Linked DNA regions of Homo sapiens: region 2 is linked to region 1. The links come from fine-mapping of genetic effects on gene expression. Tissue or cell type: whole blood. Region 1 holds a variant in brackets; the other region holds the start of a gene. All regions are shown on one strand. Distances are from middle to middle.

Region 1 (7,502 bases):
CACAGTTCACTGCAGCCTCCACCTCCCAGGCTCAAGTGATTCTCCCACCTCAGCCTCCCCAGTAGCTGGAACCACAGGCATGCACTACCACATTTATTTTTGCAGAGACAGGGGTCTCACTATGTTACCTAACTGGTTTCCAACTCCTGGCCTCAAGCAATCTTCCCTCCTCGGCCTCTCAAAGTGCTGAGATTAAAACTGTCTCGTGGCCAGGGTGCGGTGGCTCATGCCTGTAATCCCAGCACTTTGGGAGGCCGAGATGGGCGGATCACAAGGTTAGCAGTTTGAGACCAGCTTGGTCAACATGGTGAAACCCCGTCTCTACTAAAAATTAGCCGGTAGTCCCAACTACTCAGGAGGCTGAGGCAGGAGAATCGCTTGAACCCAGGAGGTGGAGGTTGTAGTGAGCCAAGATCGCACCACTGCACTCCAGCCTGGGGGACAGAGTGAGACTCTGTCTCAAAAAAAAAAAAAAAAAAAAAAAAGTCAGCCTTACATTTTGTACTGGATGATAAAAGATTTTAAAAAATAAAAAACGGTTGGGTGCGGTGGCTCACACCTGTAATCCCAGTACTTTGGGAGGCCGAGGCAGGTGGATCACCTGAGGTCTGGAATTCGAGAAAGTATAAAAAAAATTAGCCGGACATGATGGTGGGTGCTTGCAATCCCAGCTACTTGGGAGGCTAAGGCAGGAGAATCTCTTGAACCCAAGGAGGCAGAGATTGCAGTGAGCCAAGATCACACCATTGCACTCCAGCCTAGGCAACAAAAGCGAAACTCCATCTCAAAAAAGTAAATAAATAAAAAATAAAAATAAAAAACTGGCCAGGCGCGGTGGCAACACTTCTAGAGGCCGAAGTGGGCGGATCGCTTGAGGTCAGGAGTTCTAGACTACCCTGGCTAACATGGTAAAACCCTGTCTCTACTAAAAATACAAAAATTAGCAGGGCGTAGTGGCGCAAAACTGTAGTCCCAGCTACTCAGGAGGCTGAGGCAGGAGAATCGCTTGAACCAAGGAGGGAGGTTGCAGTGAGCTAAGATTGTGCCACTGCACTCCAGCCTGAGCAACAGTGGGAGACTCCGTCTCAAAAAATTAAAAAATAAAATAAATAGGCCAGGCGCAGTGGTTCATGCCTGTAATCCTAACACTTTGGGAGGCCGAGGCAGGCGGATCGCCTGAGGTCAGGAATTTGAGACCAGCCTGGGCAACATAGTGAAACCCCATCTCTACTAAAATACAAAAAAAAAAAGAATTAGCCGGGCGTGGTGGCACGTGCCTGTGGTCCCAGCTACTGGGGAGGCTGAGGCAGAAGAATCACGTGAACCCATGAGGCGGAGGTTGCAGTGAGCAGAGATCGCGCCACTGCACTCCTGCCTGGGTGACAGAGCGAGACTCTGTCTCCAAAAAAATAAAAAATAATAAGTTTTTTTTAAAAGGTGTCAGCCACCATGCCCAACCCAAGCTTTATTCCAACAAAAGGCAAATGCTTGGTAACTGCATCAAACACATCCAAAAACTCTAGGAGCTTTGTTAGCTGTAGGGCATCCCCCAGCAGCCTCTGCCCAACAGAGGCCCAAGGAGGGTGTGGGTCCCACCCTACCCCGCCCTGGGACTGCACAACTTCAGCAGGGCCCCACAGCACAGCCCAGGGACAGAGCTAAAGACTCCAGGCTCAAAAGCACCCCTCAGGACTCTCAAAGCAGGAGCCATCAGCCCCAGGCCGTCCAGGACAAGGCCCTAAAACAGGACCAGCAGACTACAGGTGTCTTCCGGCCCAACCAGAGGCAGGAATGGAGAAACGCACACACATTCACACGCCATCAATGACATGCGACCGCAAGGCCGTTATCATCCCTCCAGAGATCTCTCAGTGTTTGTCTCTCAAACACACACGCAGCATGGCGCCCAAGCTCACCCCATGTTAGCCTCTGCCTTCACCCAGAGGCCTCCTGTACCCCTGGGCTTTCCCCTCTTCCCATCGTGGGCCACTCAGTTTCAATTTCCTCCCCTTTTGGAGAAAAAGAAAGCAAATCTCCTCCAGATGACGTCAGCCACAGGAAGCACAGACGCGAAGCCCCGTTCCACCCTCTTAAAGACACAGGATGGCCCCGCCCAGCAGCCGGCTAGCAGCCAAGGAGCCAAGGGGCGGGGGCCGGGGAGGAGGGGAAGCAGAGGTGCCCCATTTGCCTCCCAGAGCTGCCTCCCTGAGCCAAGCCTACAGGGCCTGACCTCAGAATGCAGCCTGGCCACTAGGGGGTCTAAGAGCCACCCCAGCCTCAGTGGGCCCCAACCACACTCTAGCTCAGCAGCACCCCCACCCCCACTTCCACCTAACCCACCGGCCCTGTTCCACCAGCCTCCAGGAGGAGCTTCTGCATCCATCTAGGCCCAGAGGGCGACCCTGGGGCCCTGGCTGACACACATGCAAGGAGCAAAGTCCAGCCTGTCCCTTTAGCTCCTCCTCTCCCACCAGCACTCTCTCCAATCTGTCTCCCCATGTTCTCCCGGCCACCCTACTGGGGCCACCATGCAAGGTCCATCATGTCACCACCTGCTCAAACGCCAGCTATGGCTCCTGTAGCTCTTGCGATTACAAAGGAATTTGCTTTATAATTACATGTTAAACTGAGTGTGTCTGTGCTTTCCTGTGTATGTATTATAGTTGACAATAAAAGAAGAAAAGAGGCCATGTGCAGTGGCTCACACCTGCAATCCCAGCACTTTGGGAGGCCGAGGCTTTTGGGAAGCTTGAGCCCAGGAGTTCGAGACCAGCCTGGGCAACATGGCAAAACTCCTTCTTTACCTACCAAAAAATACAAAAATTAGCCAGGCTTGGTGGCACGCACCTGTAATCCCAGCTACTCAGGAGGCTTTCTCCAGCCTGGGAGACTGAGTGAGAATCTGTCTCAAAAAAAAAAAAAAAAAGAAGAGGAAGAAAAGAAAAATCTGGGATTTGTCTCACCAGACAGTGAAATTTACAATAAAGGAAATTTTATTATTATTATTTTTTTGAGGCAGGGTCTCACTCTGTTGCCCAGGCTGGAGTGCAGTGGCACGATCACAGCTCACTGCAGCCTCAAACTCCCAGGCTCAAGTGATCCTCCCACCTCAGTCCCCCAAGTAGCTGGAACCACAGGCATGCACCACCACACTCGGCTATTTTTTTATTTTTTGTAGAGACAGGGTCTCACTGTGTTGCCCAGGCTAATTTTTAATCTTTAATTAAAATTTTATTTTTTAATTTAATTTTTTTTTTTTTGAGACAGAGTCTTTCTCTGTCACCCAGGCTGGAGTGCAATGGTGCAATCTCAGCCCACTGCAGCCTCCGCCTCCCCGGGTTCAAGTGATTCTCGTGCCTCAGCCTCCCGAGAAGCTGGGACTACAGGTGCGTGCCACCACACCTGGCTAATTTGTGTATTTTTAGTAGAGATGGGGTTTCACCACGTTGGCCAGGCTGGTCTCGAACTCCCGACCTCAGGTGATCTGCCCACCTTGGCCTCCCAAAGTGCTGGGATTACAGGCCTGAGCCACCGTGCCTGGCCTTTAATTAAAATTTTAAATAAAATAAAACTCCCTATTAGGCCCACAAAGCCATGTGTGGTCTGGAACTGCCCCCTCTCCTTCAACCTCTGTGCTGAGTCCCATCCCCCTCCTTTCAGCTTTGAAAGCACCATGCTGTGTCCTGCTCAAGGCCTTTGCACATGCAGATACTCCTGCCAGCTCAGCCCTTTCCTCCTTTCATCTCAGCCACACCTAACTCATTCCTGCTCACCCCTCAGGCCTCAGGTCACTTCCCCAGGAGCACCCTCCCCACCATGCAGAAGAGGCCAGGCCCCTCAGCACATGCCCGCACGGAATTAAATTCCTTTCTACTTCAGTTCATAAACACACACTCTGTTGTGTGTGAGCATTTGATCAACTACGTCTTGCCCCTGCTTTGTACCATTATCATCCAATACAGCTTTCGGCCACCACTATATTTCCAGTGCCTAGCATATAGTGAGTGCTCAATAAAAAAAAA[A/T]TTTTTGCATAATGTTGTGAATTAATCAATAAATATTGGACAGGTAAATGAATAAATTCACTCAGAGACCCCACCCAGGCACGGTGACCTTAGAAAACCAAGCAACATTCAAGGGGTGGTTGCAGAGCGGGGCTAGGGTACAAGGCCACACGTGGCTACAGTACCAATGGAACTACGCCTCCGAGAGGAAGGAATGGGGTCTCCCAAGGCTGGGGCCAAGCTCAAAAGGCAGAGTCGGCCCAAGCAGGAGGGAGCAGAAGGCAGAGGGGCAGCCACCCCGGCAGGGAGTTTGGGCAGGATTGTAGGGTCTGGGGAGAACTCGGCGGCCTCCAAGAAATGGAAGACTCCAAACCTTAGACAGTGAACAGGCTGGCTCTGGACCTGGGATACCCGCACCCCCACCCTGGTGTCAGCAAGGCCCCAGACAGGCTTGAGGGCCTGAGAACCACAGAAAGGACGCTTTGAGGGCTGGGAGGTAGCACCGGGGCTGTGGCCACACCTCGCCTAATGGGCCTCTCTCCCTTTCCCCTGCACTGTGGCAGTGGAGTCACAGCAGAGGGTCAGTGGTGGCCTCCTTGGGGTCTGCAGCCAGAGCTTCTGCCATTCGGTACTTAGAAACCCAACAGTCTTGCCCGACAGTCCTGTGAGTGCAAGGAGCTGGGAAGAGGACATGACAGTAGGATCCAAAACAACCAGGAGACTATCTGGGGAGTGAATAAGGCAAGAATGGCTGGAGCCACTCACCATTAAACAGAGATTCACTTGCCAAAGTCTAGGGGGCAGAAGACCTGGGCCAACCCTGAGCCCACAAATAGGGCCACACTATAACCCCTGCCATGGGTGGCATCCTCCTGCGGCAGGGGTTCTGGGCCAGGCAGATGTGGGCCCATCTGGATCCAGGCTCCAGCCTGCTGCCTCATGCCTAGGGAACTCAAAAAGTAGCCCAGGTCGGGCACAGTGGCTCAGCCTGTAATCCCAGCATTTTGGGAGGCTGAGGCGGGCAGATCACAAGGTCAGGAGCTCGAGACCAGTCTGGCCAACATGGTGAAACCCCATCTCTACTAAAAATACAAAAATTAGCCGGGCATGGTGGCCGGCACCTGTAATCCCAGCTACTCAGGAAGCTGAGGCAGGAGAATTGCTTGAACCCAGGAGGCGGAGGTTGCAGTGAGCAGAGATTGTGCCACTGCACTCCAGCCTGGGCAACAGGAGAGAAACTCCATCTCAAAAAAAAAAAAAAAAAAAAGTAGCCCAGAGGGAGATAGCCAGAGGCAAGGGTCCCAAAATAAGGAGAGGAGGAGGGGTCAGTGGCAGAGAGTGGGGCAGAGCTGGGGTGGGGCTCCTGGCCTGGGGTCTTTCCCCTGCCTGGCTTCTCCTGAGCTCCTGGCCATGGCCTCGACAGCAGGGGCCAGGCCCTCAACATGGAGCCAACTCTCCAGTGGACAAACAGTGCCCTTGGCCAAGTAGGCAGCACATGGATGCCCAGCAGAGGATGTCTCCTTGGGACCCAGACAGGCAGCCACCTGAGAGAGTTCAAAAGAGAGGAGTCATTGATGACCCTGTCCCCCTCCCCTCCTCCCAGCACCCACTTCTTTGGCTCCTGCACCTTTATAAAGCAGGTCCTAGGCATGAGCTGGGGCTCAGAACAAAGCAGAGGACAAGAGATGACATGAGGCGCGGGAGGGGGAGCATCACTCCAGTCACCTGCTCTTCTCGATGCATGGGCAAAATAGCCTGGGGCAGGAGGCAGCAGGGCACGCCAAGCACACGGCACACGAGGCCCAGTGCTATGCACACCACGGCGGCAGCTGGGCTAACAGAACAGGTCCCACATGCACACCTTGGGGAGTCAGAGGTGCCTCTGAGCTGGCCCCAGTCACCTCCCTGCTGCCACAACCCCAGGAAGCCACTCCTCCTCCTATGCCCCTCTGGGAGCTTGTTCCGCACTGTCTCCTCCTTGTTGTCCCAGCTCAAATCTATAACATTGAGAAAAAAAAAAAAAAAAGAAACAGAACAACCCTTCACATGGATTCTCCAACTCCTTTTTTTTGTTGTTGCAACCTCTGCCTCCTGGGTTCAAGTGATTCTCCTGCCTCAGCCTACAGAGTAGCTGGAATTACAGGCACCCGCCAACACGCCCAGCTAATTTTTGTTATTTTTAGTAGAGACAGGGTTTCACCATGTTGGCCAGGCTGGTCTTGAACTCCTGGCCTCAGGTGATCTGTCCACCTCAGCCTCCCAAAGTGCTGGGATTATAAGCATTAGCCACCACGCCCGGCCTCCCTTTTAAAAACAAAAAACAAAAAACACGGGGTCGCCCAGGCTGGAGTGCAGGGATTATTCCCAGGCAGGATCATACCTCACTGTAGCCCTGAACTCCCGGCCTACAGCGATCCTCCTGCCTCAGCCTCCCAAGTAGCTGGGACTACAGAAGTGTGGCACTGTGCCCAGCTTCAATGCCTGTCTTACTCCTCATCCATTCACGGCTAAAACTCTCCAAGGAGTTGCCTGCGACCAGCATACAATTTCCAACTGCTCTTCAATCTGCTCCACTGCCTCGCTCTTGCCCAGGGTGCCATGGACTCCGTGGTGTGAAATCTCCATTCCACAGCGCACTTCACCACAAGCCTGCCCTCCTCCAGTGTCCAGCCCCTGCTCCTTCCCACTCCCTCCACACCCTGCCTTGTGGGAGCTGCTGAATGTAAGTCTCCATCCTCACCTCTTGCCACCAAGCTCTGGCTCTCTCTGGCTCTCTCTGGCCTCCAGCGCCTCTGGCCAGGAAGCCGCCTGAGGCCACCTCCTACAGAAACGACTTCCCACCTCCCACACCCACCCCATCTGCTCTTTCCATCTTCCACAGAGCAGCCAGTGTGGTCTTCCTAAAACTCCATTCGGTCCCCAGCGCTCCCAGAACCCTCTGTGATGCCCACTGTCCTCAGGACGAGGCCCACTCCTTGACTGCCTCCAGGCCCACACAGGCTGGGCATAGGCATCTCCCACGGGGCCATCTGAAAGCCCACAATCCTGGGCCTCAGGGCAGGACAGCCGCTCCTGGGCTCCTGGACGTGGAGGGGAAGGCCTGTAGAGATCTCAGGCTCCAACCAGCCCTGAGGTGTTGAGGAGGGGCACAGCTGCACTTCTTCCCCTCCTCCACGCACAGGAGCCCTGCCCTGATTCTGCTGTAGCCAGTGAGGCCCCACACCTGCCTGGGCCTACAGGATGGGATGGGGCAAAACAAGAACCCAAGCCCCCCACTCAGGCCCAGAGCCCAAGGTCTCTTCCTCCAAAGGGGAAACCCTGCCCTCCTGGGCAGACCTTTTCTTTAAGCGGCTTCTAGATCCACCAGGGAAGAGGGGAGACAGCAAGTGGAACAGACCCAGGCAGGAAAGCCCGCCCTAGTGGCTGCACACCCATTCCACCTCCAGGAAGATGTCACAACTCCTGTTACGGTGGCAATAACACAGGCCGGAGCCCAGCCAA
Region 2 (5,757 bases), 880 kb after region 1:
CCAGCCTGGCCAACATGGCGAAATCCCATCTCTACTAAAAATATTAAAAAGTAGCCAGGCATGGTGGTAGGCACCTGTAATCCCAGCCACTGGGGAGGCTGAGGCAGGAGAATCGCTTAAACTTGGGAGGTGGAGGCTGCAGTGAGCTGAGATCATGCCACTGCACCCCAGCCTGGGCAAGAGTGAGACTCCTGAGAGTTCCAAGGAACAACACAAGTAGAGTGAGGTCCAAAGGGGAAGCTGATAGTTCTACCTGGGTCACCCCAAGGGGGACTCAAAGGCTGGGGCAGAGAGAACCAGAGGGAGGTGGGCCTGTTCAGGAGTTCTCAGGATGGAGCCAGAGCAGGTCCAGAAGGCCCTACAATCCTTAGTGACCTAAGGGCAGACAAAGGGGGAAAGCAGCAGCAAAGATCACTGCTTAGGGCAAGAGGAAAAGTCCTTGAGAGTTGGTTCAGACTAAGAAGGACCTTGAGTCACGAATTTGAACACAAATGCTGGGACTCCAGAACCTCTGGTCCACAGTCAGCGGGTGAACAGCACTACCATGTCTCTGGGTACCTGTTTGCACAAGCGGAAGCTACACCCAGGCCCTGCAGTCCCCTGCACTGCGTTAGGAAATGGCTCCAAATCTGTCTTGAAAGATTATTGCTGCTCAAGCCTGTAATCCCAGCACTTTGGGAGGCCAAGGCGGGTGGATCACGAGGTCAGGAGATCGAGACCATCCTGGCTAACACGGTGAAACCCCGTCTACTAAAAAACAGAAAAAAATTAGCCGGGCGTGGTGGCGGGCGCCTGTAGTCCCAGCTACTCGGGAGGCTGAGGCAGAATGGCGTGAACCCGGGAGGCGGAGCTTGCAGTGAGCCGAGATTACACCACTGCACTCCAGCCTGCGCAACAGAGCAAGACTGTCTCAAAAAAAAAAAAAAAAAAAAAAAAATTAAAGATTATTGGCAGCAGGGTCAACAGATGGAGAGGCTGGACCTGAGTGGTGCCCGAGAAGCAGCAGCTGGCTTCAAAGACAAGCCCTTATCCTGGGCCTGAATGTGCAATTAATTGCACGTTAAGTGTTGGGCAGGGCATAGTCAGAAGGGCCAGTTAAATTATAGTTTTCTCACTCTTGAATATATGAGGCAGAAACTTGTAAGATCATCGTCACAGCAGATACAGGCACTTGGTAGCAACATGGAAAGATCTAGCCAGATAACAGAATTTATAACATTGCATGAGCTTCCGTGTAAAATGGGATTGTGTGGACCTAACAATTGGAGAGGCCATGACTCCAAATGTGAGTGGGGGCTCATGTTATTTTGTGACAGTCATTTCAGCGTGCAGCAAGTAGTCAGAAGTCTATCATTTGAGTTAGGCAGTCAACCATTGCCTTGTGTCTTTTTTGAAGTAAGGACTTTGTTGTAACTGGGTCTTGAGATGGCCCTTTGCATGTTCTGGTGAAGGCAGAAATGCAGGCCAGGAGCCAGACTTCCCACAAAGGAAAGAGTGGATCCTACACGCTGCAGACAAAAGGACAGAAAGTTCAGACTTGGCTAGGATAAGGGAAGGAGGATTAAGTTCCCACCACTATGACAATGAGGTTAGAAAAAGTATCGCCAGGCCGGGTGCGGTGGCTCATACCTGTAATCCCAGCACTTTGGGAGGCCGAGGCGGGTGGATCACGAGGTCAGGAGATCGATACCATCCTGGCTAACACGGTGAAACCCTGTCTCTACTAAAAATACAAAAAATTAGCCGGGCGTGGTGGCAGGCACCTGTAGTCCCAGCTACTCAGGAGGTTGAGGCAGGAGAATGGCGTGAACCCGGGAGGCGGAGCTTGCAGTGAGCCTAGATTGCGCCACTGCACTCCAGCCTGGGCAATAGAGCAAAAAACTCCGTCTCAAAAAAAAAAAAAAAAAAAGAAAAGAAAAAGAATTCCCAAATGACAATGACACAGGACATACACACAGTTCTGCTGACACCCGGCACTTTATTAGTGGGGAAACTCGCCTTGGTCTGGCAGAGACTGGGATCAACAGGACCAGCACCCATCTCGAGGTGGTATTTTCTGTAAGATCAGGTGTTCCTCCCTCGTAGGTTTAGAGGAAACACCCTCATAGATGAAAACCCCCCCGAGACAGCAGCACTGCAACTGCCAAGCAGCCGGGGTAGGAGGGGCGCCCTAGGCACAGCTGGGCCCTTGAGACAGCAGGGCTTCGATGTCAGGCTCGATGTCAATGGTCTGGAAGCGGCGGCTGTACCTGCGTAGGGGCACACCGTCAGGGCCCACCAGGAACTTCTCAAAGTTCCAGGCAACATCGTTGCGACACACCGGAGACCAGGTGATGAGCTTGGGGTCGGTCATAAGCGCGGTGGCGTCGTCGCTGGGAGCTGGCAGGGCCTCCCGCAGGAAGGCGAAGAGAGGGTGCGCCCCCGCACCGTTCACCTCGCACTTCTCGAAGAGCATGAAGTTGGGCTCGAACCCACCACCAGGCCGGACGTACTTGAGGGAATTCAGAATCTCTTCGTTCTTGGCGTTCTCCTACAGGAGAGAAGGGCAGCTAGAACCCGGGGTCAAGAGGAGGAGAGAAACGTTCTAACCACAAACAAGGGAGATTTTCTATGAGTCACCGGGATTTTGCCCTCCATGCGCAATCCCAAGGGCGGAGAGGAATTTCAGCAGCTACGAGCAACAGAAAGGAAACGAGAGAGTAGCCAGACTCTCCGCGCATGGAGCCGACGGCACCCACCAGCACACCGCCGGCGCCCCCAGCCACTACTGCACGTCCGCCCCCGCCCCGCCCCGCTCCGCCCGGCGCACCTGATGCCCAAACTGGTTGCACGGGAAGCCGAGCACCACCAGGCCCCGGGGTCCGAGGCGCCGCTGCAGCTCGTTCATCTGGGTGTAGTCCCGGACCGTGGTGCCTCAGAGGGACGCCACATTCTCGATAAGTAGTACCTTGCCCCGCAGGGAGCCCAGGCTCACAGGCTCCCCGCCGGCCAGCGGGCGCGCCGAGAAGGCATACACCGACTGGGCCGCCGCCGCCGCCGCCGCTAGCCGAGCAGCACACATGGCGCAATTGTCCAAGAAGCCAGCGGAGCGCCCCGAACAAGCACTGTAAGGGGAGGCCAGCAGGCGCCTCCTTTTAACTGGCCGGCGGCGGGTCACGTGGCACAGGCAGTTTTCCGGGCCTGAGGGTCCCGCCTCATCCGGCCCCCGCCCTACCCGGAGGGCTCGGCCCCTCCTCAGCCAGGAAAAGGCTGGAGAGTGCGCCCGAGCGGGACGCGTGCTCCTCCTAAGCCGGAAGGAGCAGCAGGCATGTCTGGTCTGGCCCAGGCAACCAGGCGGCAGCGGTCCAGGTTACCCTTCCAAGGGCTGGGGCCCTCGAGGGCTCCGTTTTTTCTCAGAGGTTCCTGAGTTAGGATGTGGGGTTTGGCATAGGAGGCTGGTGGGCGACGGCAGCAGCTGCAGGAGCTGCCCGTGCACAAACAGCCCTCCTCTCCTGTGCCATGTTACCGGCAGTGCAGGGGACAGCCAGAGGGATCTAGGCTTCCGGTCTCCCTCCTCCCTGTCTCCAAAGCGGCACCGCCCTCGTGCGGGTTTTCTAACCGGGCAGAGTCCTGGAAGCTCTGCCCCAGCCTCCTTAAGTGGAGCCCAGTAGCTCGCCGAGGCCAAGGAAACGCTGCCGGAGTCCTCCCTCCCTGGCCTCCTCAGGCTGCATTCACCCTACCCCCAAATCTGAACCAGAATGCGGTACAGGGTAATCATTTCCATGTTGTTGGGAGGGACCAGATTAGCTGCTGGGTGGGTGGGAGGTGGGGCACAAGCTAGTCCTTTGCACTCAACAAACCTCTCCAGGGTGAGCTAGGCCAGGAAGTCCTTGCATCCTCCTACCCCCAGCCCTGGAGAGAGCAACACAAACAACAGGATACAGGAAGTTTAGAAAACTGCCTTTATTCTATTAGTAGTTGGAAAAATTAACTGGTACAGAAAAAAAGTTTAGTCAGCTGGAGAGAAGAGAGACTGAGTGCCACCCATGAGAACTGGTGGCTCCTCTGGGAGGGAACCTGGATACAGTGAGGAGAAAAGAGCACTGTGAATTAGAGCCAGATGCTTAAGTCCAGGTGAGACAGGTTATGCCATCTTCCAAAGTGTCTAATTGCCTCAGGCGTGAAACCAATTCCTATTTACTTAGCCCAGCTCCATGGGGTACTGAGATACATGGGGCCGAAAAGGGGTAATATGGCCATCTTTTATCAGAAAAAGTGACAAAACGGGAATTTAAAAAATGAATTTTCCATCTGACTTTATTTCCAAATACACTTTCTTTTTTAAAAAACCAATACACTTTCTTTGAGGATGACAGTATTAGGAAATCCAATTATACAAAAAATACTACATCTAGTCTGGGGTAGATATATTTATTTTTGGTAACATACATTAAGTGGCACTAATTACACAGTAACTATAAGGTAACTAACATGAAACCACAGAACTGTAACTCTGCCACAGCTGCATGAACTTGGGCTTTTCTGGTTGAGCCCATTTTCAAAAAACTGCCCACCCCAGAGCTATGCCAACAAAATCTGTTACGGAGTAAAGCCCTGAAGTGGTGACTCACCAGAGTACCTTGCAGCTGACAGATAATAGGCAGGACATGTTAGTTATAAAGTAGTTACAGCCTAATTCACAAAAGTTACCAACTGTTTCTCTTTCTAGAAAGAAGCAAGAAGTTAAGAAATTCCTTGAATTAGCGCCTGGTGTGTCAGGTGGGAGTGCAGAGGAGGGCTGTTAGAGCAGTGTCAAAAGGACCCTGGTGGGCCAGACGGGTTGGACATCGTTAATAATCATAGTTGGCTTCTAAATACTGGTAGCAAGATGACTTCTGATTTGTAATCTTAGGTAAATTATAGATAAATGAAAAAGGCCAGTAATCATACACTAAGATTAATAAACAGCACTTCAAAATTAACCGCATAAGGGCTGTGCTTGCAGCAAGGTTTCACAAGACAAGGCACCCAGATTTTTTCTTCCCACGTCTAGCTTGCAGAGCAGCTCTCGTAGCCATTTCAAAAACCTCTCTCACTCCATCTTTGGTCTTTGCTGAACACTCCATGTACCCAAAAGCGCCAATCCTGTTTGCCATATCTCTGCCTTCTTCAGGTTTCACCGGCTCCTAGCAAAGAAAAAAAAATAGTCCTTTTAGCTAATAGTGTGGCATACATATAGTAAGTAAAAAGTATTCAAATTCATCTAAAAGATTTTTTTTTCTTTTTTTGAGACAGTTTTGCTCGTCGGTCGCCCAGGCTGGAGGGCAATGGCATGATCTCAGCTGACTGCAACCTCCACCTCCTGGGTTCAAGGGATTCTCCCGCCTCAGCCTCCCGAGTAGCTGGGACTACAGGTGCCCACCACCACGCCCAAGTAATTTTTTAGTAGAGATGGGGTTTCACCATTTTGGCCAGGCTGGTCTCGAACTCCTGACCAAGTGATCTGCCCACCTCGGCCTCCCAAAGTGCTGGGATACAGGCATGAGCCACTGTACCCAGCCTAAAAAAAAAAAAGACTTTCAAAAGCTGTTAAACTTGGCTGGGTGTGGTGGCTCACACCTGTAATCCCAGCACTTTGGGAGGCTGAGCTGGGCGGATCACGAGTTTAGGAGATCAAGACCATCCTGGCCAACATGGTGAAACCCCTCTTTACTAAAATACAAAAAATCACCTGGGTGTGGTAGTGGGCGCCTGTAACCCCAGCTACTCAGGAGGCTG

The links. PIP is the estimated chance that this variant, and not a neighbour inherited with it, causes the effect.
Region 2: GPX1 starts here. The variant in region 1 is fine-mapped to the expression of GPX1 in whole blood (TOPMed, PIP above 0.99).

What each region holds. Positions count from the first base shown.
Region 1 is chr3:48,471,094-48,478,595 of GRCh38, forward strand. The region is part of intron 3 of SHISA5 (shisa family member 5); the gene reads right to left. Among named protein-coding and RNA genes, the nearest start is that of TREX1, 8.6 kb to the left of the region's middle. RefSeq lists enhancers at 1,457-2,316, 1,589-2,208, 2,349-2,458, 3,178-4,037. The variant A/T (reference allele first, on the strand shown) is at 4,023.
Region 2 is chr3:49,355,218-49,360,974 of GRCh38, forward strand. It overlaps GPX1 (glutathione peroxidase 1), which reads right to left and starts at 3,136. Exons shown (of 2, transcript NM_000581.4): 1 at 2,810-3,136; 2 at 1,959-2,530. The coding sequence starts at 3,061. The coding sequence ends at 2,171. RHOA (ras homolog family member A) reads right to left here. Exons shown (of 5, transcript NM_001664.4): 5 at 3,928-5,165. The coding sequence ends at 4,992. RefSeq lists enhancers at 2,812-3,420, 3,329-3,658, 3,421-4,029 and a silencer at 3,109-3,168.